Linked DNA regions of Homo sapiens. The protein of the gene in region 4 purifies or fractionates together with the protein of the main gene of each other region. This does not show direct contact. Each region holds a gene or a part of one and is shown on either strand. Other genes may lie near its edges.

Evidence for each region.
Region 1: the proteins of SLC2A9 (region 4) and ECPAS purify together in Homo sapiens (affinity purification with mass spectrometry; 2 studies listed by BioGRID and IntAct, with this or other methods). This does not show direct contact.
Region 2: the proteins of SLC2A9 (region 4) and IPO11 purify together in Homo sapiens (affinity purification with mass spectrometry; 2 studies listed by BioGRID and IntAct, with this or other methods). This does not show direct contact.
Region 3: the proteins of SLC2A9 (region 4) and ARFGEF1 purify together in Homo sapiens (affinity purification with mass spectrometry; 2 studies listed by BioGRID and IntAct, with this or other methods). This does not show direct contact.

The regions. Positions count from the first base shown.
Region 1 is NC_000009.12:111,369,299-111,376,969, forward strand, and holds part of ECPAS (proteasome adapter and scaffold protein ECM29), read right to left. Parts: intron 7,244-7,671; coding exon 7,178-7,243; intron 5,905-7,177; coding exon 5,815-5,904; intron 4,741-5,814; coding exon 4,674-4,740; intron 4,109-4,673; coding exon 4,017-4,108; intron 3,939-4,016; coding exon 3,872-3,938; intron 3,323-3,871; coding exon 3,131-3,322; intron 2,532-3,130; coding exon 2,323-2,531; intron 1,468-2,322; coding exon 1,424-1,467; intron 1,330-1,423; coding exon 1,137-1,329; intron 1-1,136. UniProt on the Homo sapiens protein: Adapter/scaffolding protein that binds to the 26S proteasome, motor proteins and other compartment specific proteins. May couple the proteasome to different compartments including endosome, endoplasmic reticulum and centrosome.
Region 2 is NC_000005.10:62,478,311-62,485,981, forward strand, and holds part of IPO11 (importin-11), read left to right. Parts: intron 1-4,790; coding exon 4,791-4,983; intron 4,984-5,699; coding exon 5,700-5,852; intron 5,853-7,108; coding exon 7,109-7,152; intron 7,153-7,671. UniProt on the Homo sapiens protein: Functions in nuclear protein import as nuclear transport receptor. Serves as receptor for nuclear localization signals (NLS) in cargo substrates.
Region 3 is NC_000008.11:67,263,373-67,271,043, reverse strand, and holds part of ARFGEF1 (brefeldin A-inhibited guanine nucleotide-exchange protein 1), read left to right. Parts: intron 1-3,601; coding exon 3,602-3,701; intron 3,702-3,813; coding exon 3,814-3,953; intron 3,954-4,059; coding exon 4,060-4,168; intron 4,169-4,836; coding exon 4,837-5,038; intron 5,039-7,671. UniProt on the Homo sapiens protein: Promotes guanine-nucleotide exchange on ARF1 and ARF3. Promotes the activation of ARF1/ARF3 through replacement of GDP with GTP. Involved in vesicular trafficking.
Region 4 is NC_000004.12:9,885,063-9,892,733, reverse strand, and holds part of SLC2A9 (solute carrier family 2, facilitated glucose transporter member 9), read left to right. Parts: intron 1-2,022; coding exon 2,023-2,124; intron 2,125-5,091; coding exon 5,092-5,167; intron 5,168-5,831; coding exon of another isoform or gene 5,832-5,974; exon of another isoform or gene 5,975-7,671. UniProt on the Homo sapiens protein: High-capacity urate transporter, which may play a role in the urate reabsorption by proximal tubules. May have a residual high-affinity, low-capacity glucose and fructose transporter activity. Transports urate at rates 45- to 60-fold faster than glucose.

The DNA.
Region 1 (7,671 bases), on a different chromosome or scaffold from region 4:
TACCATAAGTTTCCCTATTTACAACAAGAATTTATAACCAGAATACTGTATCTCTAATAAATTTAGGCAATACTTTACAGGCATCTGTAAACAAAAGCTAAAAAATACTGCATATGTAGTCTTTTGAGCATAACATGAAAAGACTTGCATTAGAATCAGATTTTAAAGATGGAAGAAACTCAGTAATGATCTAAATCCAAACTCTTTCTTGATAGAGAAACAGAGGCTAAGAGAAGCAACTGGTCCAGCTTGCTAGTGATGTAATCAACTTAAAACACAAGTCTCCCAAATCCATATGCTATCACTATGTTTGTAATGGAAATTATTTAAATAGCCTTATTACTGAAAGAAAACAACTGCAATTTAGGAGCAATAAGAAATAAGAATGTTACTTAAAATATTTCATGTTTCACAAATAAACAGGGAAACCACACCCTTTTTTTTGGGGGGGGGACCAGTGCCCAACTTTTAAAAATGAGTATTCCATTTTCCACATGAAACTTGAGTCTTTTTTTGACCCAAATCCTCCACTATATGGCAGAGGCAATTCACATGGCACACTGAGCTTCTTGCCTTTACTCTAGGATGGCTGGGGTGGCTTAGCTTATTAGCCAAGGCAAAGCTTATTATGACATAAACTGTTCATTCACTACCAAATCCACTCTCCCCTTCTCCCATGGAGGGCAAATGGACACCCAGAATGAAGACTCAGTCTGCTGCCAGGTGTGGCTAAGTACTGACCAACAGGATGGCTATAAGTCAAAGTGCCATCTAGCGGTGCCCAGGAACTCTCCTCAAGAGAGACATGGCATGCCCACTGTATCCTTCATCCTTGCTTCATCTCCTCTGCATTCCTGCCTAGAACACAAACACACTGTGGACCATGAGGATGATGACCACACCCTAGAAATGGCAGAGTTCAGAGCTGTAAAGAGACGGAATACCTGAACACTTTGTGATGCTCCCAACGCTTTGTGAGAAACATAGCATTGACTATCTTGTTTAAGGCCGTATTTTGGAATTTCTCTGCTACTTGCAGCTAAACTAATCCTAATAATCAGGACATAGGGGAAAACAATTTTTTAACTTTTTCTTTTTAAAGTATAAACCAGAACTGAGGATACAGGTGGTATTACCTTCTTGATGAGAGGTATGACAATGTTAGAGAACTCCTGGAATCTGTCCTCTTTGGTGGCCTTCAAGATATCAGCTGCACAGCTGATTGCTACAATCTTGTATTTGACATTCTCTTTGCTACATTCCTTCAGAACAGCTTGAAGAATTTCATTTGTGCTGGGTTGATTGGGCACAGACTTTTCCAGCTCTGCACTACAGGGTCCATACAAAAGCATCAGAAGTTAATAAAGGCTGCAGTTTTCGGGTCCAGTTTAAGAAATGGCATCTTCATTGAAAGAACATTTACCTGCAAGCTGTCACCACACAGGCAATGGCTTTCAATAGCTCCTCCTAAGGGGTTGAAAGATGAGGAAATACTATTAAGCCCAAACATGTCATTTACACTGTCTAAACCATGATTACAATTACCTTAGGAATTTTTGATAACTATGACAACAAAAATTAACAACAGTCACCTTATCTTTAATGCATAATTTTAAGCACATCCACCAAGTTTTACTCCAAACCATGGATGTAGGATAATTATCTTCACCTCCATTTCATAGAAGCCTAAAGAACTGATTCGACCCAGGTCTCACAGAAAACAGTGTCAACCACAGAATTGGAATGATGTCTGACTCCCAGTCCGGTACTACTTCATTCCTGCATGGGCCACTATTGACCTTTACAACATAAAGATCATTAGGTTACCACAATCTCATGTTCCCCACTGAGTGTTCACTGTTAAGAATCCTACTAAAGCTCTTGTGTAAAAAAATAACTGTTACTAATTCATAGGTCCCAGAGATGGGCATCTTCAGCCCCAGGTTTAGAGGCAGGCTACCTTGCTACTCTATTTCACATATGCCCAATCCTGATCTTTCTATGCCCAATCCTGATCTGTTCATGAGGTCAACAGGTACAAAATGCTGACAAGTTGGTTTAAGACGTAACTTGGAAGGCTGAATATGGAAAATGTATCTATCTCCAGCATTACTGTCCATTATGCAAGGCCACACGGGTTGCAGTTTGAGAGGAAATACCACAGTTAATCAGGCAAGGTTTACCCAAAGCTTCCACTGTCTAGGAAATCTAGTTCACAAAAATAATCCATTGGAAAAGTTACACAAAACCAGATCGTTACTATTATGCAAAATGAAAGATGAAGTCAGAATCCCTTTAACTGGGTATGAATGGTTCCTTTACCTTTCCTGCCCACGTTCTTCCAGCCAGGCCTTGCAGCAATGCGGTCAGTATCATTCCGAGATATGGAGGTACTAGAGAGCTAGTCTGTTTTGCAATTGATGCCATGGCAATTGCACCCTGGGCTTTCATTTTCCAGGACTGAGACTGCAAAGCCTTCTGGGTAATAGTAATTAACTCCTGCAGGTATAATCGAATGCCACCAAAGGATCCTAGGAAAGCAAAATTAAAACAACTTTTAAGTGACAAGAAAAATTAACTGATTTTTCTAAACCTGAAAAAAAGTCAGTGACCAACAGTCTAAAAGCAGTGACTCTCAACTGTTAAAACACACCACTCTCTCAAAGGGAGAGAAAGTGTGTTGGTGTTGTGACTTATTCTCACAATAGTAGAACTTTACGAACTTGGGTGCCCACAGGAACGTATCACACAAATGGGCATCATCAATTAATATGCGACAAGGTGAAAAACACATTTAGAAAACTACTCTAAAATACTCTAAGGCCACATAAAATCACACTCTTAATTAAAAATGTAAAGCTCTCCTTGCTCACAGGGTTTATATTCTCTCATGTGGGCAGTGATGAATGAGTAAAGACAAAAATCCTGAGTGCCAACCTTGAGAACTCAGCAATTTGGATGGGTTCAAAACTAAATGGGATGAGCAATTTGGATGGGTTTAAAACTAAATGGGATGCATATTAAGGTCCTGGGAAAGTAACTTCAGAGGAGTTTATGAATAACGAATGCAAGTAAAAAATTCTAGCTGTGATTCCTAAGAAGCAGGTTTAACTCAGGCCACACTACTAACCAGGTACGTTTTCCTGCCACACTTCGGTCCATAAATTACATTCTTCTTTTTCGGATTTCTCCTCATCAGCAATTTCATGCATGCCTAAAAATGCCAGAGGCAGGACTTCTTTTGCATGATTCTTTAATACATCAGGGCTGTATCGTCCAATAGCATGAATAGTCAAAGCACAAGAGGTCTTGTAGATAGGTTCTGAAAAGGAGAAACCAAAATCTTTACGATATTTATTGTTTTTAAGGGTAACTGATCTAAACAGGCTATTGTTCAACTCATATAATAGCAAAACAAACAGGTAAAATCAATTAGAAATGTTTCTAGCAGGCTGGGTTGTGGTGGCTTACACCTGTAATCCCAGCACTTTGAGAGGCCAAGGTGAGCAGATAGCTTGAGCTCGGGAGTTTAAGACCAGCCTGGGCAACATGGCGAAACCCCACCTATACAAAAAATACAAAAATTAACCAGGCGTGGTGGCACGTGCCTGTAGTTCCAGCTACTCAGGAGGCTGAGACACAAGAATCGCTTGAGCCCAGGAGGCTGAGGTTGCAGTGAGCTGAGATAGCACCACTGCACTCCAACCTCAGCGACAAAGCCAGACACCATCTCAAAAAAAAAGAAAAGAAAAGAAACAAATGTTTCTAGCAAATCACATAAAATCATGGAGGGTAAGACCTAATTTGTACTGTTTTACTGGGCTGTTAACATCTAAATTTAAAATGACATAAAATAGAAAAAGAAAGGTACCTTCTTTCTCCATATACCACCCATTGAGCTTCTGCAGGAGTTTTTCAGTGCTGCTATCCCGTGAGGTCTGAAAAAGAAACAATCCTAAGTATTTCTTTATAACTGTCAAAGAGTTTTATTTAACTAAGCAAGAAATTTAACTCACCCGAACTAAATGGCCCATAGCAAATGCACAAGATTTCTGAATCACACTGTTCCGATCTGTCAGGCCACTCAGCAAAGCACTCATAAGTTTACCTACCAGAAATAAAGAGAAAAAAATCTGATACTTGGTTGACCAAATGTTCCACTCTGTTCCCAGAACCCAAACAAACCTAACCCTGTAATTAACATCTGATTTACTCCACAGTAGTTTAGATTTCTGGATGTTATATTTATATATCCATTTGCTTCCTTTTACATGATATAAAGTTAAAATTAAACTAGAATATCGTGGAAAAAGATGCAAAATAAGAACGAGGTATATAAAGAACACTAGTCCAGTCTAGAAGCCAATCTAAGAAGAGAAAAATGCTGATGTAAAATCAGCTATCAATGGTAAGTCCTGTGGAAAAGAGGATACTTTTACCTCCTTATACCACTAAGGAATAATCAAATGTTTATGAACAGTGAAAAGCTGCTAAACTTGATAAACTCTGCACCTCCTGCAGACAAAGAAATGAAGGAGTCAGGGGACTGAGGGGAGAAAAGGCACACAGCATCACAAGCAGGTCTGAATGATAAGTATTTTTCCTTTTTAAAACTCTGTCACACAAGACAGGGCTGTGCAAAAATATCACCACACATCCCTTGACAAACTCACCTGAGTAAGGTGTTAGGTCCTGAGGACACTGAGTAGTTAATGACACAATGACACTGGCACAGCCACCCTACAGGGTTACAAAAGCAAAGGTCTAAATCTGATGGTCACAATGTTCTACCTACCAAACCATTGGCTTAGGTGCCAAAAATTTAAACATATAAAATACATGAAGCCTAATACCCCCTCCAGGACTCAATATAGAAAAAGGCAAACTCTTAAACTAGTAATGCAGCGATTTTTTTTAAACCTCCAAGAGAAAGATGGGTGATCTCAGACATTGTGAAAAAGAAAGAAAACTGGTACAATCTTCTGGAAAAGCAAAATATGTCATCTTGTCCATCACTGTGCTAACATTTCCATTTCCAGAAATTTAACCAAATATCTTCAGGTGTGCCTGAAGACACTCATCACAGTGCTTTACTATTTTTTTCAAAAACTGAAAACAAATCAGATGTTCCTTGATGGAGTAAAATAAATGATGTTACATCCATACAGTGGAGTATCATACGGCCATTAGAAGAGGACACTGCAGAAGATACATGTGCAGAAAAGACTGGAAGGAAACACTTCAAAATATTAACAGCAGTTATCTCTGTATGGCAAAATTCTGGACAATTTTTATTTTAACTTTCTCCTAATCTATAAATGCTAAAATTTTAAAATACCAGCAAGTGTTAATTTTGTCATAAGAAAAAATGTGAGTTATTAATTTGTTGTTAAAAGGGTGGTAGGGGGGTGTCTGATCCTTCAAAGATCTTGAAAACTAGGACATTTTTCTATTCAAACACTGCTGACCCCTCTGTGAAAAATGCAATTGCCACCTAAAACAATCCATGCCCTAATAACTGGATGTGCATTTCCATGAACTGCTAATGAATGACAACCCAGAGGGTATGTACACGGCAACCAGAGAACAGAAATGATTCCACTAAATAAGTTAATACTTACTGGAACAGTTAGATGTTTTATTTCTTGAACCAGTTACATGTTTTCAGTTATCAGTGCAACCACAGAAATAAAATGGTTAGTGTATAATATTAGATTTTGTGGTAAAACATGAATTTCAAACATGATGGCTGTTATATCCTTATGGCCAGAACTAATGAAGATGCACATTTCCTCTTGTGGAAAGTACACTTACCTTAGTTCCAAGACCTACACCACTTCTGATCAGTTCACACAACCTAGGAACTAGCTCGCCCAGCACTGACACATCAAGGTATTGCAGGCACTTTTGAAAAAGGACAAATATAAAGGTAAGCCTTGGCAAATAAGTCAGGACCACATCTTCAATTAAAAACTGCCCTTGTCAAACGTGTACCAACTGGATTTGACATGAAGTTGAAAAATCACTGCTTGCTTCTGCTCTGATTTCAATATTAAAACCACTATTGTACTACAAACAGAAAAATTATTCATCAGTGATTCAACACTAAAAACAAACAAAAAAATGAAAAACATCAATTTGCTAAAAAAGAAAAATAATGATTACTCAAGAATGAAGAATCTTTCTGGGCCTACTTCCTCTTTATCAATCCATGTTTAGTATAAAAAACCTAAACTAAATATTGATCTTCTACAGTGGGCCTACCCTACCAAACCCCCTCTAATGAGTCAACTTCTTAGATGACTTTTCCTATAAATTGCTGGCCTTTATTTTTGAAAATGCAATTAACATGTTTTCTATTACTAATGAATATAACTAAATGGTATTCACTAACTATTCCTATTTCTTTAAATTTTTATTTCCCCCCAATAATCCAACTAAGACATAACATTCTTAGACCAAATTTTGGTAATACTCCCCCAGCAGGCACTAAAAAATAGCTACTTCTCTTCACCAGTTTAACATAGTTTTTTGTACACTTCAGTTTTTTTAGGGGTTGGATCTATACCTTCAGAGTCCTGCTAAAGGTACAGATCTGCTTAGCAAACTAATTTCCAGTAAACACAATCATAGCTAACTAACCATTACAGGGAATGCACAACAGAGTAACTTTACCAAGACTCCAGGAAGTTTAGAAATCAGAACCTCAGAATGCCAAGCAGCCCTTTACTGCAAATGCCTTCCTATGACTAAAACAACATATCGACATTGCCCAATCTCTTCACATACCTTTATGTTACCTACTTCATTAAATACCTCCACAGCTTATAACTTTCCTAGTTCCTCCCAAAGATAACTATTAGGCACAGGCACAACTCTGAACCTTTCTAAATAGGCAGATCAAAAGACTACAGATGTAAATTTATAGAGAGCTCTTGATATGTTGTTGTCTCTTGTAATACAAATTTGGACCAACTGTTTCTGGTATTTGGGGAATTATTTATTCCACTTAGTAACAGAGAAGAAAAGAGAAATATACTAAGAAAAAACTGGAGTCACAACAGCTGCTTGACTCATCCCATAAGTCTCTGCTTCATTTAACATAGCCTGAAGACTTTGAAGAATTACACTTTCAGGTAAGCAAACAAACCCTCTCATTATTATTTAAGACACTCACCATGTTGATTGTTTCCATCATTGGAGAAGATTTGGCAGCACTAAGCCGAGCACTATCCATCGCAGCCTAAAGAAGAGAAATTAAAGTCACCCGGCACATTCAATTAATTAGGAATAATCCGCACAAACACCCATAAAAGACTTTCACTTCCAAGCTAAAGAACTTTAAAAAAAAATAATCCGTAGCTATAACAAAGGCAAACATCAAGTCTAACTCTAATTTCTTTTGACCTACACTCAACAATTTACCAGGGGAACCAGCACCACACTACAGGTGAGAAATTCAGATAACAGTTAAGAAATCAGCATAGTATGGCTCTGGGCAAGTCATCCAGCCTTCTTGAGCCTGAGGTTCTCCATCCACTAAATAAAGGAACTGACTAAACAAATTTCTAAGGTTTTTAAAATTGTGTCTAAGCAGTAGAAAATTTTATACGTGCAGTTCTTTAACTTTGTAATTACCCTTCGTATCTATGAAGGTATTTTAATCTAACA
Region 2 (7,671 bases), on a different chromosome or scaffold from region 4:
ACATGCCACCACGCCCAGCTAAATTTTTGTATTTTTGGTAGAGATAGGGTTTTGCCATGTTGCCCAGGCTGGTCTCGAACTTCTGGGCTCAAGTGATCCACCCACTGCCACCTCCCAAAGTGCTGGGATTACAGGCGTGAGCCACCACACCTGGCCTGTTTTATTTTTTTTAAATAGGATCTTAACACAATTTTATATTTAAAAAATACTGATAGCTTCTTAATATCATTTAAATATCTAGTCAGATTTTAGATTTCTCTGATTGTGTCATGAATTTTTCTAGTTTGTTTGAATCAGGATTCAACTTGCATCAGCTCCCTTTCCATCTGTTCCAAAGTTATTTCCTTGCTGTTATTTCTTGAGGTAACAGGTAATTTTCTGTACTTTTTCATGTTTTGAATTTGATTGCTTGTGTCGCCACATGCTTTTTGTTAACATGTTCTTTAGTCTTCACACTTCTCCTCCCATATTTCTTATAAGTTGGTAGTTAGATGTAGAGGTTTAGTCACTTTCAGGCTTTTTTGTGGGGGATAGGGCAGGGATGGCAAGAATACATTATAAGTATTGTTCTGTATTGTATGACGTGCACACATGCAATGTGACACACAATGTCTGGTTGTCTCTTTTTCTCTTTTTTAAATTATACTTTAAGTTCTAGGGTACATGTGCACAATGTGCAGATTTGTTACATATGTATAATTGTGCCATGTTGATTGGCTGCACCAATTAACTTGTTATTTGCATTAGGTATTTCTCCTAATGCTATCCCTCCCCCATTCCACCACCCCACGGCAGGCCCCGGTGTGTGATGTTCCCCACCATGTGTCCAAGTGTTCTCATTGTTCGATTCCCACCTATGAGTGAGAATGTGCGGTGTTTGGTTTTCCGTCCTTGCGATAGTATGCTCAGAATGATGGTTTCCAGCTTCATCCATGTCCCTACAAAAGGACGTGAACTCATCCTTTTTTATGGCTGCATAGTATTGCATGGTGTATATGTGCCACATTTTCTTAATCCAGTCTATCGTTGATGGACATTTGGGTTGGTTCCAAGTCTTTGCTATTGTGAATAGCGCCACAATAAACATACGTGTGCCTGTGTCTTTATAGTAGCATGATTTATAATCCTTTGGGTATATAACCAGTAATGGGATGGCTGGGTCAAATGGTATTTCTAGTTCTAGATCCTTGAGGAATCGCCACACTGTCTTCCACAATGGTTGAACCAGTTTACAGTCCCACCAACAGTGTAAAAGCATTCCTATTTCTCCACATCCTCTCCAGCACCTGTTGTTTCCTGACTTTTTAATGGTCGCCATTCTAACTGGTGTGAGATGGTATCTCATTGTGGTTTTGATTTGCATCTCTCTGATAGCCAGTGATGATGAGCATTTTTTCATGTGTCTGCTGGCTGCATAAATGTCTTCTTTTGAGAAGCGTCTGTTCATGTCCTTTGCCCACTTTTTGATAGGGTTGTTTGATTTTTTCTTGTGATTTTGTTTAACTTCTTTGTAGATTCTGGATATTAGCCCTTTGTCAGATGAGTAGATTGCAAAAATTTTCTCCCATTCTGTAGGTTGCCTATTCACTCTCATGGTAGTTTTCTTTTGCTGTACAGAAGCTCTTTAGTTTAATTAGCTCCCATTTGTCAATTTTGGCTTTTGTTGCCATTGCTTTTAGTGTTTTAGTCATGAAGTCTTTGCCCATACCTATGTCCTGAATGGTACTGCCTAGGTTTTCTTCTAGGGTTTTTATGGTTTTAGGTCTAACATTTAAGTCTTTAATCCATCTTGAATTAATTTTTGTATAAGGTGTAAGGAAGGGATCCAGTTTCAGCTTTCTACATATGGCTAGCTAGTTTTCCCAGCACCATTTATTCAATAGGAATCCTTTCGCCATTTCTTGTTTTTGTCAGGTTTGTCAAAGATCAGATGGTTGTAGATGTGTGGTGTTATTTCTGAGAGCCCTATTCTGTTCCGTTGGTCTATATCTCTGTTTTCGTACCAGTACCATGCTGTTTTGGTTACTGTAGCCTTGTAGTATAGTTTGAAGTCAGGTAGCATGATGCCTCCAGCTTTGTTCTTTTGGCTTAGGACTGTCTCGGCAATGCGGGCTTTTTTTTGGTTCCAAATGAACTTTAAAGTAGTTTTTTTCCAATTCTGTGAAGAAAGTCATTGGTAGCTTGATGGAGATGGCATTGAATCTATCAATTACCTTGGACAGTATGGCCATTTTCACGATATTGATTCTTCCTATCCACGAGCATGGAATGTTCTTCTATTTGTTTGTGTCCTCTTATTTTGTTGAGCAGTGGTTTGTAGTTCTTCTTGAAGAAGTCCTTCACATGCCTTGTAAGTTGGATTCCTAGGTATTTTATTCTCTTTGTAGCAGTTGTGAATGGGAGTTCACTTATGATTTGGCTGTTTGTCTATTACTGATGTATAGGAATGCTTGTGATTTTTGCACATTAATTTTGTATTCTGAGACTTTGCTGAAGTTGCTTATCAGCTTAAGGAGATTTTGGGCTGAGATGATGGGGTTTTCTAAATGTACAATCATGTCATCTGCAAACAGGGACAATTTGACTTCCTCTTTCATTTTTTTTTTTTTTTTTTTTTTTTTTGGAGACAGAGTCTTGCTCTGTCGCCCAGGTTGGAGTGCAGTGGCGTGATCTTGGGTCACTGCAAGCTCTGCTTCCTGGGTTCACACCATTCTCCTGCCTCAGCCTCCTGAGTAGCTGGGACTACAGGCACCCGCCACCATGCCCGGCTAATTTTTTTTTGTATTTTTAGTAGAGACAGGGTTTCACCGTGTTAGCCAGGATGGTCTCGATCTCCTGATCTTGTGATCCACCCGCCTTGGCCTCCCAAAGTGCTGGGATTACAGGCATGAGCCACCGCGCCTGGCCGACTTCCTCTTTTCCTAATTGAATACCATTTATTTCTTTCTCTTGCCTGATTGCCCTGGCCGGAACTTCCAACACTATGTTGAATAGGAGTGGTGAGAGAGGGTATCCCTGTCTTGTGCCAGTTTTCAAAGGGAATGCTTCCAGTTTTTGCCCATTCAGTATGATATTGGTTGTGAGTTTGTCATAAATAGCACTTTTTATTTTGAGATATGTCCCATCAATACCTAGTTTATTGAGAGTTTTTAGGATGAAGGGCTGTTGAATTTTGTCGAAGGCCTTTTCTGCATCTATTGAGATAATCATGTGGTTTTTATCTTTGGGTCTGTTTATGTGATGGATTACGTTCATTGATTTGCGTATGTTGAACCAGCCTTGCATCCCAGGAATGAAGCCCACTTGATCATGGCAGATAAGCTTTTTGATGTGCTTCTGGATTCGGTTTGTTTGCCAGTATTTTATTGAGGATTTTCGCATTGATGTTCATCAGGGATATTGGTCTAAATCCCTGATTGTTCATCAGGGATATTGGTCTCTTTTTTTGTTGTATCTCTGCGAGGCTTTGGTATCAGGATGATGCTGGCCTCATAAAAGGATTTAGGGAGGATTCCCTCTTTTTCTATTGATTGGAATAGTTTCAGAAGGAATGGTACCAGCTCCTCTTTGTACCTCTGATAGAATTCGGCTGTGAATCTGTTTGGTCTGGGACTTTTTTTGATTGGTAAGCTATTGATTATTGCCTCAATTTCAGAGCCTGTTACTGGTCTCTTCAGAGATTCAGCTTCTAACTGGTTTAGTCTTGGGAGGGTGTATGTGTCCAGGAATTTATCCATTTCTTGTAGATTTTCTAGTTTATATGCTTAGAAGTGTTTACAGTGTTCTCTGATGTTGGTTTGTATTTCTGTGGGATTGGTGGTGATACTCCTTATCATTTTTTATTGTGTCTGTTTGATTCTTCTCTTTTCTTCTTTATTAGTCTTGCTAGTGGTCTGTCACTTTTGTTGATCTTTTCAAAAAACCAGCTCCTGGATTCATTGATTTTTTGAAGGGTTTTTTTGTGTCTCTGTCTCCTTCAGTTCTGCTCTGATCTTAGTTACTTCTTGCCTTCTGCTAGCTTTGGAATGTGTTTGCTCTTCCTTCTCTAGTTCTTTTAATTGTAATGTAAGGGTGTTGATTTTAGATCTTTCCTGCTTTCTCTTGTGGACATTTAGTGCTATAAATTTCCCTCTACACACTGCTTTAAATGTGTCCCAGAGACTCTGGTACATTGTGTCTTTGTTCTCATTGGTTTCTTTTTCTGTGGCTAAGATTGATGAGTGATCTATCAAATTTCCTCAGCAGCTTTTCTCTTATTTTAACAGCTGTTGATCATCATTTGCCTAGATCCATTATTTGATCAGGAGTTACACAATGATGGCATTCTAATTCTGTTATTCCTTTTGCATTTATTAGCTGAAATTCTTCTATAAAGAAGACATCTCCCTCCTTAGCTATTTGATAACATTAAAATATAATTCATATGGGAAAGGGAAGATAATATTTAAATTCTTTACCTTAGTCTATTACTTTTAAAGGTCTATTGTATATTTAAGCGTTTTGTATCATATTCACCCATTGTTATAAAATTAAGTATGAATTGAGTCTGTTTTGGTTTCTGTATTGAAAATAATAGAAAGTTCTTATTATCAGATATAATCTAACATAATCCTCATTATATGATGTGCCTCAAGAAGAGTTATGATAATGTAAAACTGAGTGAACATAGACTCCACACTAAGGTTCAAACTGCTAAATGATTATTAGTAAAGTTATAATTGGAGTGATTATATTCCAATATGAATTTGGGGAAAATACATTTTAATTTTTATTTATTTATTTTTCTACAGCTTTTGGACTTCTTGGATCAGCATCCTTTTTCATTTACTCCTCTAATTCAGAGATCACTGGAATTTTCTGTAAGCTATGTTTTTACAGAAGTTGGTGAAGGCGTTACATTTGAACGATTCATTGTCCAATGTATGAATCTTATTAAGATGATTGTCAAAAATTATGCTTATAAGCCATCCAAAAATTTTGAAGGTAATTCCTTTATTGGCAGTTTAAAAGAATTATTTTAATCTTAAGTGTGATATAATTGCTATAATTACAAACTTTTTAAAAAATGTCATTTTAGTCTGAAAAATAAATTGTTGCTGGGACATGAAAAAGATATAAGGATTATAGGCTTTAGTATGTTTATACTAGCTTTTAAAAACAACATAGTGCATTTAATAAGCCATTTTTTGTAGCACAAATTGGTTGAAGCTTAGGGACTTTAAGAATTAGGTACTATAGTCATCACTGCAGCTCATATTGTAGGGTGTATTCATTTGAACAAATAAAAGCTTTCTCTGACTTTATATAAAGTGTGATTGTTTCTAGACAGGTTAAATTGTTGTATTATTTGGAATTCATTCATATGCGTGTGTGCCAAGATGAATGAAGAAGTCTTGGTGGTGGGGGAGAGAGAAACACATGCACACACCCCCCACACCCTCTACATTATGAGGAAGTTATTTCAGTATGCCGTGATGGTATTGCATGGTAATATATAAGCTGTAATGCCAGAGGCAAGATTGATGTGAGTGTGTTGTAAGGAAAGAGTATCTTTGAGATTTGTTTATAATAAAAATGAAAATTTATACACAAGTGTATCTTCTTCCCTGAGAGTGTATTTTTTATTTATTTAAGTTACATAATCCAATGTAGCTACAATGTTTGGCTATACAATTAACTTGGAAATTTCATTTTTCTAGATAGCAGCCCTGAAACTCTTGAAGCCCATAAGATTAAGATGGCATTCTTCACATATCCTACTTTGACAGAGATATGTAGAAGATTAGTCTCTCATTATTTCCTATTAACTGAAGAAGAACTGACAATGTGGGAAGAAGACCCAGAAGGCTTTAGTAAGAATTAATTTTTTAGTGTTAGAATGACTTTTCTCCCCTTTCTATAAATATCTGTTTGAGTGATAGGTATAATATTGTATTTTCATACAGCACTTTTGATCTGGAAATCTTGGTGTTTTAAAATTAACTTACTCTTTCGTTGTTATCCATTAGAACAAATTGAGAAGCAGAAAATGAATGACTTATGCAAATATGTTGTAGAATTTTGTCCAGGAAAAGACCTTTTTAGTTTTTGGATTCCTTTACAAATATATCATGTAGTTTCAAACAAAAATATAAAATTAACTCTCTCTTACCCTGTCAGTTTCTATTTTGTGATTCATTCCATGTTATTTTTTATTTGTAGAAATTCTTGCAAAGAAATTTGGAGGTTTTTGATGAATAGTTTTTTTTTTTTTTTTGGACAGGACATCTTTATATCTGTTTGAATTTTAGTACTAGATAGATAAGTAGAATAAGTCTGTTGGGACCCTTGCTATAGAAAATCAAGGAATCATGTGTCTAATAAAGTACTTACTTGTATGTGAATTACTTAAGCTATGGTGGGACATAGGCTAGATTTTAGCCTCCCTTTTCTCTTTGGTTGTGTACCCTTGTGTAGTTACACGTTTCCTAATATTTTAAGAGTGCCCAAAAGTTTTTGTAATACTTATCTTCGCCATGCTTTTGGTTTTTAAAAGTAATTTTAGTTTTAATACAGGATTGTACTGTACAACATGTCTTTTCTTGTTTTTTTTTTTGCTTTTTTTGAAACATCTTTTTTCAATTTGCTTTCTTTATATAGTACATACAACATTGTAACATAAAGTGTTGAGTCCCTAAATTTTTAAGAGCCCTGAAGTATTTTTCTTTAAATTCAAGAAATTTATGGAGAGTGTGAGTAATCATTGTACCTAGTGAAACATGATTACTGTATTGAAATGAAATGATTCTCAGAATTCTAGTGATATTGGATCAGGTGATAGCAGATACCCTGGAAATGACAACTACTTTGAGCTTTTTTCCATAAAGAATTTTTATCGAAAATGAGAATGCTTATGGATATAGTAAGCACTTAATAGACGACTGTGAGATACACAACTGTGATCTGTAGCATATAGTAACAAAATCTGTGTAAGGCCTGTGTTCCCAAGGCTTTGCTCTTAATGTTATGTTTAAAAGAGTTCACAAAAATATTATACTGATGTTATTAAAATCTTTGTTTTCTAAACCAAGATGTTGAAAATGTCATTATTACATATTTTTAATTGCAGCAGTGGAAGAAACAGGAGGAGATTCTTGGAAATATAGTTTGAGGGTAAGTATTAATTGCAAGAAAAATTGATAGGGGAAAGCTTAATCTTTCTAAAGCTCTTAGTAGAGAATGACACTCTATTAAAGATTCCAGACATTTGCTGGGCATGGTGGCTCACACTTTAATCCTAGCACTTTGGGAAGCCAAGGTGGGAGGATCGCTTGAGGCCAGAAATTCAAGACCGGCCTGGTAAACATAGTGAGACCCTGTCTCTGCAAAAAGTAAAAAAAGGAAAAAAAAATTAGACCAGAGTGGTGGCGCATACCTGTAGTCCCAACTCTTCAGGAATCTGAGGCAGGAGGATTGTTTGAGCCCAGGAGGTTGAGGCTGCCGTGTGCCATGATGATGCCACTGCGTTCTAGCCTGGATTACAAAGCAAAACCCGTCTCTTAAAAAAAAAAAAAAAAAAATTAAAGATTCCCAACATTAAGTCAGACAGATAAGAAACTGTTTATAAGAAACTAAGAACTATATTCATATTAAATTATGACGTTTAATCTGAGTTTTTTTTCTTTTTTCTTT
Region 3 (7,671 bases), on a different chromosome or scaffold from region 4:
TTTTTTTTTTTTTTTTTTGGAGATGGAGTTTCCCTCTTATTGCCCAGGCTGGAGTGTAATGGTGCGATTCCGACTCAGCACAACCTCCGCCTGCTGGGTTCAAGCGATTCTCCTGCCTTAGCTTCCCGAGTAGCTGGGATTATAGGCATGTGCCACCACGCCTGGCTAATTTTGTATTTTTAGTAGAGACAGGGTTTCTCCATGTTGGTCAGGTTGGTCTCAAACTCCCGACCTCAGGTGATCTGTCCGCGTCCGCCTCCCAAAGTGCTGGGAGCATAGGTGTGAGCCACTGCGCCCAGCTTTATGTGGTTTTTTTTTTTTTTTTTTTTAAGGTGTACCAGTTTCTGATTTTTTGTTTTCATCTTCAAATAAAACTTAAAAATAGTACTTTATGTTTTACCAATTTAATGAATGCTTTTTTCAATTTGTTATTTGTTGAAATGTTGTTTTGGTTGTGATGTTGTATGGTTTTGAAATACTCATTTTTATGTTGTCAGTTTTTACCTTCATATTATGTTTGATATACAGGTTATATTTTAATTTTTGTTAATTTTATATTTAATCCTAACTCAAGACTCATAATTCACTAGCTTGTTAGAAAGGATAAATTATTTTTCCAGAATTTCGAAATGGCTAAAATAGTCATATTATCCTTTAATGTTAATGTTCTGTAATAGCTATCAAGATTGATTTAGAGCATTGTTATGAGAATGAAACAGAATTAGGCCTTGGTATTTTAAGTGAAAAGCTTTTTAATTTGGGCCATATTTTTGGACAGGAAACCATTTTTGGTGCCTATATGATGTATGATGTCAAGTTTTAAGAGTTTGCCATATGTCTGTTAAGATAATACAAGGCGTTTAACTAGGAAGAGTTGCCGTTTTTAGATAGTTTTTCCCCATTATCTGTAGGAACTATAAATAAAAGACAGTTAAAAAAACTTTTAGAACTTTTGCTTTTGTAAAAAACCAGAAGTCTTTCATCTGATGATGAGACATTTAAGTTGGCATTAGAAAATTTTGTAATACTTTATGTAACCAATTACAGATTTTTTTGGACACTGAGATTCTGCTTCTGTAGGTACTGTTTACCGACAGTAAAATATAAATTCTTAGATCTAGATATCAAAAATTATTTAAGTTGAGATTACTATTTTTGCACAGCAAATTCAACTTTGCAAAAATGAATTTGAAAGGAAAAACTTTAAGAAATTTCTTGTCAATTTGTAGATGTCAGATTCTCATTACAAAATTATTATAATATTCTAATTTTTAAAAATTAGGTTTATTTCACTCCTTATTGTCCCTCAGGGGGCGATAATGAGGGTAAAATGAGATAAATATAGATATACTTTCAAAAATGTTATACACACTCAAATTATAAATGAGTTGAGCACCGGGCACAGTGGCTCACACCTGTAATCCCAGCACTTTGGGAGGCCGAGGCGGGTGGATCACCTGAGGTCAGGAGTTCGAGACTAGCCTGACCAACATGGAGAAACCCCATCTCTACTAAAAATACAAAATTAGCCGGGTGTGGTGGTGCATGCCTGTAATCCCAGCTACTTGGGAGCAGAGGCAGGACAATCGCTTGAACCTGGGAGGCCGAGGTTGCAGTGAGCTAAGATCGCGCCATTGCACTCCAGCCTGGTCAACAAGAGCGAAACTCCATCTCAAAAAAAAAAAAAAAAAAAGCTGAACGTGGAGAAAGCCCAGCTATGAAAACCTAAATTTGCAAAACAAAATTAAGATTGTTTTTACATGAAGATTCATTTTATGAGAATATTCACTTCAGAGTTTCTGTGATGTGATTTTTTCATGGGTCTTAAATTATATATCTATTCCAGAAGATACAGTTTATGTACAACTTTTCAGGAGAACATATGTGAAGACAGCATACTTAAGATATAGCTGTTGTTCCACATACATACATTATAGGTCCTCGATAAATTATTAAAAGGTTGATTTTTTTAGAGCCCCTATTATGATAGGCATAATATCTTATATTACAGCAATAGACTTTTGCTTATTAGTGCAATTTGATAAACCATTGATAGTAGCTAAAATTTTTTCTTCCCTCTCTCTTCCAGTCTATATTATTTATTTTGTCAATCAGAGGATCCCAAAAGTTTTTGATTCACAAGTCTGACTTTTCATGAAAGTTGCACTTTGGCCAGAGGAATACCTCCAGTTCTATGTTCTATTTATTAAGCAGGCAGGGCCAAACAACTTAATGGATATTTGTCTTCACAGCCTACTATGTATTTCAAAGACAATAGTATGCATAAAGTAAAAGAAAAATAATGTTTTTATTTTATTCTTTACCGCAATTACTTACCACTGGGATGCGTGTGCCTATTAGAAACTGCACACAGCTTCTTAGATCTTGGAATTGAATACTGTCCCCCTCATTCCTGTACTTCATTGATTTTCATTCAGTACTTGGTTTTTTATCATAGCAACTACCAAAACCCAGCTTTGCGGAGATAATTATGTCATTGAAGGGAATGTAGTGTGATTTATTTGAAACCATGAGCAATCTTTTGAGGTATCCAACAGATGTATCTCCCTCTGAATTTTGCCTCAGAATTTTTTCAGGGCACCCTCATGAGTTTGCTACAGCATTCTGGGGTACTTTGATGCAGTTTTTGGGAATTGTGGCCATGTTGCCATAAGTATTTATTGAACACCTACTATGTGCCCTGCAATATGGACGTGATCTTTATCAAGAAAGACCTGGTCATTACTGTCTTCAAGCTTACAGTCTATAGGAGATACTGATATTAAACAAGTAAATAGAAATATGCTGAGTTTTGTGAAAGAAAATCACATTACAGGGGTACCTAATCCAGTTAGGGGGAGATACTATAAATGTGATTTTCTGGGTTCATAATGCATATGTTTCATAAATGTTAATATGTTGGTTGTTTCAGTCATTCCTTCTTAAAGTCACTTTTATAGAATACATTTAAATCTGAAAATTCTTATCTGTTAAATTGAAATTTATCTCATTAGGTTGATTAACTCACTGCTTGATTATTTGGTGTAAAGAGTAGTGAGAAATAGTTCATATGTAGTTTTCAAACAGTAGAGATTTTCACTTTTGTGAGTAATTAGAAAAATAAAACCGTATGAGACTTAGATTGTTTTTATTGTGTTGATTAGAGTATCAGTTACATTTAAATCTACGAACAGTTAGGCCTCTCAGTACTAGAACGTCTCTGAAAAATATAACTGATGAACAGAAGTATAAATTACGCTTTTGGAGGGGGATTAAAAAAGCGTAAGTTATATTCTGTAAAAATGTTAAAGAAATTATCACCTAGAGGAACTCTAAATCTTTGCATATTTCTTTTGTAGCAGCTGTGTTGAGAACAAAACACATCAATGTGAATTGCAGTACTGATAACTAGAAGGGCAAGTTTAAGTCACTTACCCAAGATATTTTAGTCCTGAGGATTCAGAGATGGAACTCAAAAGGAGTTGAACTCCATAAGAGCCTGGGTCCTAATACCTGCTCTATAGCTCTGGGATGTTTAAAAAGTGATCACACATATGAATTCTAAACAATATTTTAAACAGAAGTTTTCTCCTAATCACAGGTGTTCTTTAAAGAAATTTTCTTATACATTTTGGAAACTTCTACCAGCTCATTTGATCACAAATGGATGGTTATTCAGACACTGACGAGGATTTGTGCAGGTATTTTAAATTATCCTTTTTATTATCTCTTTCTTATTATTAGATATTTAAAAGGCCAAATGTACTCATATCCTAGATGTACTTTGTTGAAATTAATGTTATATTGTTACAGATGCTCAGAGTGTAGTGGATATTTATGTAAACTATGACTGTGACTTAAATGCAGCCAATATATTTGAAAGACTAGTAAATGATCTATCAAAAATTGCTCAAGGAAGGGGCAGTCAAGAACTTGGTATGAGTAATGTTCAGGTAAGAACTATAAAAACATTTTCAAATTTAAACTTTACCAGGAAAGAGTCATGTGTTTTCCTTAAAAGACCTTTAAAAAAAATTTTGTTTTTGAATTACTTTGTAGGAATTGAGCCTGAGGAAAAAAGGTTTAGAATGCTTAGTGTCGATTTTGAAGTGTATGGTTGAATGGAGTAAGGATCAGTATGTGAATCCCAACTCCCAGACAACTCTTGGTAAGGTGATATTTTGAGCTGTAATTCTTTGTCATTTTAAGTGAATAATACTTTGGAGGATAGTTGCAGCTGCTGTTAAACCAATTTCATGACATATTTATTCATTTAACTGATGAGGAAACATTCTCTGTGAGTTAAATGTCTAGCTTTAAAATTGTGAGATTTTTAACTTAGTTATCCAAACTATTTTTTTCTAAATCTTCTTAGAAATATTTTGATTATGTAAAATGAAGCATATTTATGCAACTTTCTTGTATTATAATTATAGAGGAAACATATAAAAGGCAGTATGTTTTAAGAAGGTTGAATTGTTCATCTGTGTTTGATGTTTACCCTCACTCAGAGAAAAACTCATAGCTGCAGGGCTACACTGGTATTATCGAAAACAATTCCTCATGAGGAGTGAGCTGAGAGCAGAAATCCAGTGGATACTCAGCACTGCAACTGCAAAAAGAACTCCTCCTAATGGTGCAGACTATACACGTACAAATTACAGTGTGTTTTAATATCAAAGTATGTTGTTTACTATGTTACCTAATAGTTATTTTGTATTAAATAGATATCTAAGCAACATTGAAACGCCTTGCCTTATTCAAGAATTTGTTTGCCCTTACACTTTTTTTTTTCTTTGATAGAATAATGTACTCTATCAATTTTTCTTCTTTCAGGTCAGGAAAAACCCTCAGAGCAAGAGATGAGTGAAATCAAACACCCTGAGACAATAAACAGATACGGAAGTTTAAATTCCCTGGAGTCAACATCATCATCAGGAATAGGCAGCTACAGTACACAGATGTCTGGCACTGATAATCCAGAACAATTTGAGGTCCTAAAGCAACAAAAAGAAATAATAGAACAAGGGATAGATTTGTAAGTGTCATAGCTTAAGGAGAAATGTTATTGAATATCTCTCTGCCAGTATAGTGCCACCCCTGCCGTGGGTTTATCACCTTATAATGAGTAAAATGGAGGATAGTTCTCATGGATCTAATTCACGAGGCTCCTATTCAGCCCCCCTTGTTCATTGCAGTCTAGCCCAACTAGATTCCTGTAATGCCCAACCACTCTTGTCATATAAATTAATTTGTCACCATATTATAAGTGCTGTTGATGGGTATCATCTGTGCAATTTTGCACTGTTTAGCTCATGACATCCCCCCATTATATTTTCTAATCATGTGACAACTCAAAACATTTAAAATATGAAACTTCTAATAGCTATCAGTACTCCTTTATAGGTCTTACATTTTTTCCAGCTGGCTTACAAATGTACTATTCTTGTTATTGATTTCATTTTTATATGTTGATGAGGTGATCACCTCTCTTCCAGCCTGGCTAGTGTACCGGATCCTAATCTTGTGAAGTCAGTTTTCCCACTAAGCTTTGTGATACCTGCCTGCTCCTGGACTATTTCCTTTGTGAATGTCACCATGCTGCCTTCCTTTCTCTTGTTGCCCATCTCTTTTTTTCAAAGAGATGCCATAAGGAAAAATGAAATTGTTTGCCGTCTCCATGAATCTAACTATTATAAACTTAAAAATTCCCCTGTGTGCTTACTTGGTTTGCTACTTCTGTAAAGCATTTCTTCCTGATACTTAAGCAGTGCCTTTTAGTGAATGTTCAGGTGTCTTTTTTCTCCAGTGTTAATATGAAAAACAGTTCAACAAAAATGTACACATATTCTATTTTAAAATTACAAAATCTTACCAAATTGCCTCAGGAAATAGCTGTCACTACTGCATTAATTCTAATTGTTCAGTCAATATTTATTAAAGTCTCATCTTTCCAGATATTATGCAAGATCCTGGGGAAACTAGATACATGGAAAAGCCCTTCCTTCTGAGAGGCTCTTGGTCTAGTGTGTGTAAACAAATATGCATATTGAAATTCTGCTGGTCACCCAGTAAACACATATTTGGTACTTGGGACTATTGCCAAGCACCATGAAGGCATTGGTCCTTGTATTCAAGATTGCATTCTAAACATGAGCAATTTTTAAAAATAGTACTGTGTAAATGTTTATAAAAGAGTGTCGTACAGAGTAAGTACTGCCAAGGTACTTATTTTGAAGTACTTGAGAAATGAGAAGGAGTAGTCAGAGGGCTTCGAAGTGGAAGTCTCCCAGTCCTTCTCTCAGCAGCTAGACTTGCTTTCTACTTAATACAGCCATTGATGAGAATGCTTTCATGGAACTGTATTCCTAGTATACTTGTCTACAACTGTTTCATGACACCAGTCTATCCTGTTTCTCTCCTACCTTTTTGACTATGCCGTCTCAGTCTTGTGGGCTGTTTTTTCTTTCTTCCTGCGTGCATCTTAGCATTGCCAGCGTTCTGTTCCTCAGCCCTTTTCCAACATCAGCCCCTTAGTTCTCCTACCCAAAACAAAAGACAAATAGAGAAGCCTGTTATTTTTGTATTTCTTATTTATGGTAGTAACCCCAGCATGCTACTAAATTTATAAGCTAAAATCCTGGGAGTTAGCTTAGATTTTCCCCTCAAAGGATTAGATTCTCGAATCTAATCTGTCACTAAGACTTGTTGATTATACTTCCTAATATCCCTGCAATCTGTACTCTTTTCTCGATCTCCCACCACTATTCTTGCAAATCAAATCATGATTATTTATTTCCTCAACTAGTATAATCTTTCAATTGGCTTACCTTTTTCTTTGGTTTTGTTCATTCTTCAGTCTTTTCCCATGCTTAACTAGAGTAACCTTTCTTGAATGAAAGTCTATTTTTTCCCTCTCTTAGAGAATAAAACCAAAGCTGCTTTGAAGGTATGATAATACCTTCATGATTTGGATCTGCTGGACTCTAAGCTTCATTTCCTGCCACTTTTCTGTCTCACCTCACTTTCCAACAATGCAGAACTATTTATTATATAATACTGTCTTGTGCTTTTGTGTTTTAGTATGGCTTCTTCCTCTCTTGCATGTTTTTTCTTATTGTTTATAAAAGATATAATTGTTCTTCAAAATAGTTCCAGAGTCACCTTTCCCAGGAAATATATTATGACCATCTAAGTTAGTTACTTCTACTGTGTTATTTTCTTACCTTGTGAATACATCTATTTGTCACAGTTTTAGTATTATAATTCTTTAAAATTGTGTTTCTTCCATTACAGTGAGAGCTTCTAGGGGTAGGGGGATTATGTTTAGCTTAGTGAAAAGTGTTTCATTTTATGAATGTTAAGTGGTTATGGTTGGATGAGAACTTGACAAGGGAACCTTTAGGAAGAGCATCCCAGACTAAGAGAATGGCATGTGCAGCAGCAGAGGAAAGGGAGGACATCTGAGCACTTGTTCAGCATGGCAGGCTAGAGTGGAGGGGGAATAACAGGAGGTAAGATTAGAGCATTGGGTTGGATCTAAATTACAGAAGGCCTTATTCTCCATGTAAAGGACTTTTTGTTGTCTTGTTCCTCTTGGCGCTAGCGTGCTAGTGAAGGACTTTAAGCAGAGGAGTAGCATCATCAGATTTCTGTTTTGTAATAGGACTT
Region 4 (7,671 bases):
AAATGAATAATATATTTCCTGCCATTTATTGGCAACCTCTTTTGTTCATGAGTCTATTTCAGGCATTGTGAGTTCTTTCGCTTTATCTCACAGCTACCCTGCAAAAATGGTATTATCATTCTCATTTTCCAGGTGGGGAAACTGAGACTTGGAAAAGCTGAATAACCTGTCCTGGGTGCAAAGAAGGCTAAGTGGCAAAGCCAGGAATTCAGCTCAGATGGCCCATCTTCAGGCTTTTGTGCCCCTGGATGTCACCTGTGCTCTGTTCCACTGGGCCAGGTTTCTAGGAGGCCAAGTTTAAAGGCTTGAGTCTGCCCTTCTTCCCTAAGCACCCAGGAGAAAGGCATTTCTGACCAGAAGTCTTGGATGCTTTTAGAGACATGTGGTCATCAGCCAGGCACATTTTCCTCCCAGGCCTCTGACTTTCGGGGCCAGCACCCTCCGTTCCCCTCAACATTCATGCCCAGGTGACTGAGAGGTCCATGGCCCCAGGCAGCACTACATGGCCGGGGTGCTCAGCTGACCCACAGGGCTATGCCCTTCGGACAGGCAGCTGTCACTCACCCCTCAGTGCCGGCTCTGCCCAGCAGAACAACAGCCCATGCTAAGCTTGGGGGAGAACGCCCATTGCCTAGACGGCTTCTCACCTGCCTCCCTCTAAGGAGCAGGGTATGAGGAAAGAGGAACAGGTAGAGGGCACTGGGGTCCCTGCAGCTGGGTTCCATTGTGGAGAAACCCTGAGGCTTTGGGGAAGGATTGCAACTGTTCGTCTCAGTGCTGTGACCTTCGCACTGTCACCTGAAGCTGGCAGGCAGGAGCCATGTGTGCTCTGGCTTCATGGCCCTCAGCAGCGTCACTGCTTCCCCTTGTCCAAGCCAAATGACTGTCGTGATGGGGACCATCCAGCCCCAAAACCTTTTCCCCCACTAATCCCTCTGCCTGACAAGCTCTCCACATCTCTGTCTGCTCCTGCCTCCTCCAGGAAGCCTCGCCTGATTGCCTCATTGAGAAAAGCCATGGATTCTGATTCATTCTGGGCTCAATTTCTGGCCCTCTCTCACCTACTTGCTCTGTGATGTCTGCTGTTATCTCACCTCTCTGACCCTCCGTGTTCTCTTTTTGTGATATGGAGCATGAGAGGAGGATACCTCACATAATCCGAGTACCTAACCTGTGTGTTGAGTGCAGTCTCTTATTTAACACACCCTTCCACTCCAGACACTCTTGTGGAAGGATATTTTGATTCTCTTGTCACAGATAAAGGCCCTGGGGCTTTGGGAAGTGAAGTGACATGCCAAAGTTCGTGCATCTGGAAAATAGTAAAGCCGGAATATAAACCCAGGTTTTCCTGTCTCTGACATTCGGCTACAATTACTCTTTCAGTCATTGGCAGTTGAGGAGCTGTTTCCTGACCAAGTGGACAAGGGGCACAGGGGCCAGCCAGATGGAGGTCAGTGACAGTCCTAGGCCGAGGGAAGCTGGCTTCGAGGACACAGCTTTAGGGACTTCCCCAGGGACTCCCCACATCACATCCCACAATGAAATTGACTTCCCCAGACACAGGCAGACTGGAAAACGACATGGGCTTCTCTGCCTACTCCCACCCCTGTGCCCCGCTGTGGATGCCTACCCCTATGAAACCCACAACATGGAGACACAGAGGAGTCACCTTCCATGCAGGTTGCCTCTGAAGGAGGAGAAGGGCTGTGGTGACCATATCCATCCAGTTCCTTCTCCCAGACTCCCTGTTGGAGGAGTCCACCATAGCAAGGAAGATTCGGAGGAGAGTGCTCGTTATTAATGCTGTAGGTGCTCAAGAATTGTGACTTTCTCTCCCTCGCTTTTTCCTTTCTCATAAAGAGCATTGCTTCAGGGCTGTGGCCATAAAGAAGGTGGCCCAACTGTCTCAGGGTCAAAGCCGGTTTTTAATCATGATGCCATTGCCGGTTCCCAGTGCCACATTCCCCTGTTGTGGTTAGAAATGGAATAATAGCTCTCTCTCTCTCTTTTACCCTGGACTAGGGTTTGGTCATTGAGCACCTGGGACGGAGACCCCTCCTCATTGGTGGCTTTGGGCTCATGGGCCTCTTCTTTGGGACCCTCACCATCACGCTGACCCTGCAGGTGAGACGATGTTCTTGTCACATTTGAGGGAGATAAGCATGGAGCTGACTTCTGGCTTCATCGTTTTGGGGCCTTTGATTTGTGGGTTCATACTTCTACAGAAAACACTTGTGATAAAGCTCTCCCCGGGGACATCTCATCTCTGGAGCTGCTGAGGGTCTCAGTGAAGAGGGTTTGGTGAGGGGTCCTTGGACTGGGAGATGAGAGACCTGACTTCTGGTCCTGTCACTCTCACTGATGAGCCGTGTGATCTTGGGCAAGACACTTTCCATCTCTGAGCCTCAGTTCACCCATCTATGGAATAGAAGAGCTTGCACTAGACAACCTTAAGGTGCTCCTTCCAGCTGTCACCTCCCAGCATGAGTGCCAGGTGCTGCATATCAGCCACTTCCCTAGTTGTCACAATTTTAGGAACAGTGGCTCTGGAGCCAGACAGCCTGTGTGGACCCTGGCTTTTCCTTACTTGTAATGAAACTTTAGCAAGTCAGCTCCTCTCCGGGCCTCATCTCTAAAATGAAACAGTCGTCCCTTCATCCAGGGGTGTTGTGGGATGAAATGAGAAAATGCACTGAAAGCACTTGGAACAAGCACTCAGTGGATGTCCATGAAGGAGGAGGGGTGGCGATGTACTTCATCCTTACAACATCAGTATTTTTTTGTTTTATGGAGATAAGGAAACTGAGGGATAAATATAAATAAATAAGCTTCCCAAGGTTACACCACCAAAAGGTGGCAATTAGATCCCCGGATCCTGGGCTTCTGCCCCCTGCATGGCTCAGGGCAGCTTGCATTAACTGAACACTGCCTCAGTACCTCCAACTCATCTTGGTGCCATGGGAAGCGTGAAGCAAGGTTGCAGCAATTGATTAATCTTTGCATTTTTCAAAAATGCATCTGGAAATTGATAGGTGCACATTTTGATCACCTGTCAAATGTCTTAGTGGCCCAAATGTTTCTAGAAGAAGGCACTGTTAGCATGGTGGTGGCTGATGGGTGCCCTTTGAAGAGGTGGGGCTGGCAAGCACGCTGACCGGCAGGAGGTGGAAGCATTGCCTTCAGGGACAATGTGCTGGCAGATGCAGTTCCTTCCTGACAGCCAGGCCCAAGCTGTCCCAAGCTCCAGCATCTTTACAGTCCTTCAAAGTTCTCAGGAAGCCAGTTAGGCGATGTTCCAGGCCATTGTCTTTCTGAAACTTGTGTCCGAAGTTTAAAAGGAAAGCCTGAAGCCCACAAACCCCATCTAAGCCTCATTTCACAAGGTTTCAGAGCTGTTCTTGGCTTGGCCACCCTTGTCTCCTCCAGTGCCCCACACCCTGCCCCCGGCAGCTCCTCAAGGAACCTGGCAGTTTCCTCTCCTAGGGCTCTTCTGTGCTTGGCTAGCTTCTCCTTGCTCTGGACTCAGGAGGCCTTGGACATTCCTGGACACCTCTTCCTGCAGGAAGCCTCCCCTTGCTTCCAAGTCTGGGTGAGGTGCTCTCTCCTGTGTTCCCATAAGCCCCAAGGGGGAACCCTGTGAGATCACTTATCACATACCATTGACTTTCACTGTTGGCACATGTCTCTCTCCAAATAGACAGTGAGTGAGTTGTGTAGGGCAAGGGCCTGGCATGAACCATATCTGCATTTCCACCTCCCATCCCAGTGCCTGGCACCCAGGGGCAGCTCGGATCAATCAGCTGAATTAGTGAGTGAGTGAGTGACTTGGTACAGAAGCAAGCCATACAGTGTACAAGAGTCCATGAAGCTCCTCTCAACCCCTAAAGCTAATGGATTTGGACATAGAACAAGGGGAAGGAGGGAGTTCCCCATTCCTCTGTCTGCCCTCTGTACCCCTCGCCCTCCACTCCAGACTGTTTGCAGCTTACCCCCCCGCCGATGGTGCCCTCTTAGGATTCTATGCCCTTGTGTATGCTGAACCCCCTACTGGAACCTCTTTCCTTTCCTTTCCCACTGGGCTGACTCTGGCTCAGCCTACAGAGATGAACGCAGGCTCTTACCTTCCCTTCAAGTCAGGTGGCCTCTCCTGGGGCAGCCCTGGCACCCCCACAGATTCAGAACTGGTGACACTGTGTTCTAATGCTCAGCTGTCCAGTCTGCTAGAGCAGGAGCAATCCCAACCAGCACCAAGCCACCCACCCCCCGGATGAGTGACAGCTTCTCCAGACATATTCCATGAAATGAATTAACGCATCTCACACCTTGCAAGATGGCAGGGGTACAAATAAGGTCCTTTATGTAATAATATCAGAACTAAGATAACTTCTTTTAAGCAAAATATAGAAGCCTTTAAAATGTATATGAGGAAACATTCATATATATACATATATATATATATATGTATATATATACTTTAAGTTCTGGGATACATGTGCAGAACGTGCAGGTTTGTTACATAGGTATACATGTGCCATGGTGGTTGGCTGCACCCATCAACCCATCATCTACATTAGGTGTTTCTCCTAATGCTATCCCTCCTCCAGCCCCCCACCCCCCAAAACAGGCCCCAGCATGTGATGTTCCCCTCCCTGTGTCCATGTGTTCTCATTGTTCAACTCCCACTTATGAGTGAGACATGTGGGGTTTGGTTTTCGGTTCTTGTGTCAGTTTGCTGAGAATGATGAACTTTTATAAATGTGATAAAGCTGTGAAAATTGCTCATATTGCCTGATGCCAACTAAGCCCTCAATCAATGTGAGTTATTGATTTATTTACCACTTCCTGTATGCCAGGACTATGTCAAACTCATCACAGGCTTCATCTGATTTCATCATGGCTATAAAATAAGCAGATGGAGTGACCGAAGGGTTATCATTGTTCCCATGTTATAGATGCTGAAGCTGGGGCTTGGGGACATCAAGTGACCTGTCCAAGGTCACACAGATGGATGGAGGAGGAGCTGGGGTGGGAACTCAGGTCCTCCGGTCACACCATCACCTCCTCACCTGACCACTCCCTGTTCTCTCCCAGGACCACGCCCCCTGGGTCCCCTACCTGAGTATCGTGGGCATTCTGGCCATCATCGCCTCTTTCTGCAGTGGGCCAGGTAAGGCACCCCACCCTCCCCACTGCCCCGCCCAGGGACTCATGGCATCACCAAGCTGGGGGGCTCTCCTCATACAGATGGGGAACCCAGAGCCCAGAAGAAGCAAAGCCTGACTGGGGATGTGTGTCTGCTGCCTTTCTTTTGGCCCAATTTAAATGTAGCCGACTGTCTGCAGTCTATCCCACAGAAGGTGAAAGTGGACTCACCTGAAGATGAGTGGGAGATAATTTCCCACCACACAGCAAGAGCAGTTCATACGCGGGAGGGCTCTGATCCAGAGGTGACACTGGTTTGTGTTGAATCAAAGACAACCAAGTCACAGTCTGTGCCTAAGCAGTTACCGTCTATGGTGAAAGATGTGGCAATAATCATGTCTAAGACATATTGTTCATTGATTTTGTGTTATACTTGGCTAAGAACTTGACCTGTGTGAGCTCATTTAAGGCTCAGGACAGTGCCAAAGAAGACAGAGATGGAAGGTGACTTGCATGAGCGAGTAGGTGGAGTGGCCTGACTGCCAGGCCCAGGCCCCAACCACCAGCTTACATGGTAGCTGTGTGAGTGTGCAGCTGGAGTATCCCAGCCTCAGTTTACCTGGGACTCACTTCTAGCCCTGCTGTTTCCTAGCCATGGGTCAGTAGGAGAGACTTCTTCTCTTTGTTAGCCTCAGTTTCCCCATCTGTACAACGACAAGGATGCAATGCAACTGAGGACCCTACCATTCCCTGGCCCTGTGTCCACGTCCAGCAGGGACCTCCAGCAGAGTCCAAGGTCAGACTGAGAAGGGGGGCTCAGGGCAGGGTCTGACACAGCCATGTGCTCTCTCATGGGATGATATTCATGGCTGTTCTTTGGTTGTGTTTCTTGGTGGATGCAAACAGTAAGTTTCTATCAGAACAAAGGGAACTGAACTTCTGTTTCTCCCTTTGTGTTGCTGATTCTCGTAAGCCATTACATTCCAGGTTCTATTGCATTCATGGTGGATGGAAAGTGTCCATTCAGGACATCGGGATATTATAATAAGATGGCAAGGTGGCAAGGTGGGCCATGGAATGGTTGGGGAGGGCATCAGGTGCACATACATGCACACAGCACACACACACACACACACACACACACACACACACACACACACACACACAGTGCTATGAGGGTGGTCAGAACGGCTGCAAGAAAAAGAAAGCAAGCACCTCCCAGGCAGGGCAGCGAATTAGAGGATGAACACACAGCACATGTTGTAGTTTACAGTGGACGCGAGGAGTAAATGTGTTTAGTCTTCCAGGGCATCTGCATCACAACCTCACATCCACATCTTCACATCAGTGCTCTGGAGGTGTCCAGCCTACGGCCCTATGCTAGCCTGGGGACATGCGTGAGCAAACCAGACAGGAGCAGTCTCTGCTCCCAGAGGGGCTTGCCTCTGGTGTGGAAGTCCCCTCTGAGATGTCAGCTGCTCAGTGAGGCCTCTCCTGGCCACTTATTCTAAAACCAGCACACACACATTTACTATATACACTCACACACACATGCACACCTACCCTCTATCTCATCACCCATCATAGCATTGTTCACAGGCATGTTGGTTTCCTGCGTACTCATTTGTTTAATGCAGACATGGGAAGATTTTTCCTGCAAAGGGCCAGGTGTAAATACTTTTATTTCACAGACCATGCATTCTCTATCACAACTACTCACCTCTGCCATGGTAGTGTGGACACAGCCATAGATAACGAGTAAATGAATGGACTGCATGGTTGTGTCCCAGTAAAACTTTATTTACAAAAGCAGGCAGTGGGCTGCATGCGGCCTGTGTGCTGCAGTCTGTCTTTAATGTGTGTCTCCTCCAGGCTAGAAAATAAGCTCCATGAAAGGACCTGGTGTGTGGTTCACAATCTTATCCTGATAACCTAGAACTGTGCTGAAGACATAGTAAGGCTCCACAAGTACTTGTTAGAGAGGGAATAAAATAACTGAGCAAAGGCTGGCAGGGAAGATGTGTGCTTTTGTGAGCAGCGTAACACGGGAGCCTGCCCTGGCAGCAGGGTTTTTCAAAACAAACCTTGGAGGAGAGAAGAAGTGGAGAGAGCAGACCCCTTTTCCTGCAATATCCCTGAGCTCCAGGGAAGAGGCAGCTGGGGCTTAATGATATCAGAAAAATATGAAGGTGGCACTAGCCAATTGCATGGAGCAAAAGGATTAGTCAAGCTAATACCAAGATTCTTTTCAGAGAAAGAACAAATATAAGGTTGAATTCCATTCTTATCAATTTCTCAAGCCTTTATTGAGCACCTGTTGTATGCCAAGCTGGAGGGAGAGGAGAGCAGGGGTAGGCAGGAGGAAGATAAAATAGAACCATATTTTTTTTCATGGGATACATGTTGCTTTTTTATTTTAAGTTCCGGGATACATGTGCAGGACTCGCAGGTTTGTTACATAGGTAAATGTGTGCCATGGTGGTTTGCTGTACTTATCGACAGCAATTAAGGTATTAAGCCCAGCCTGCA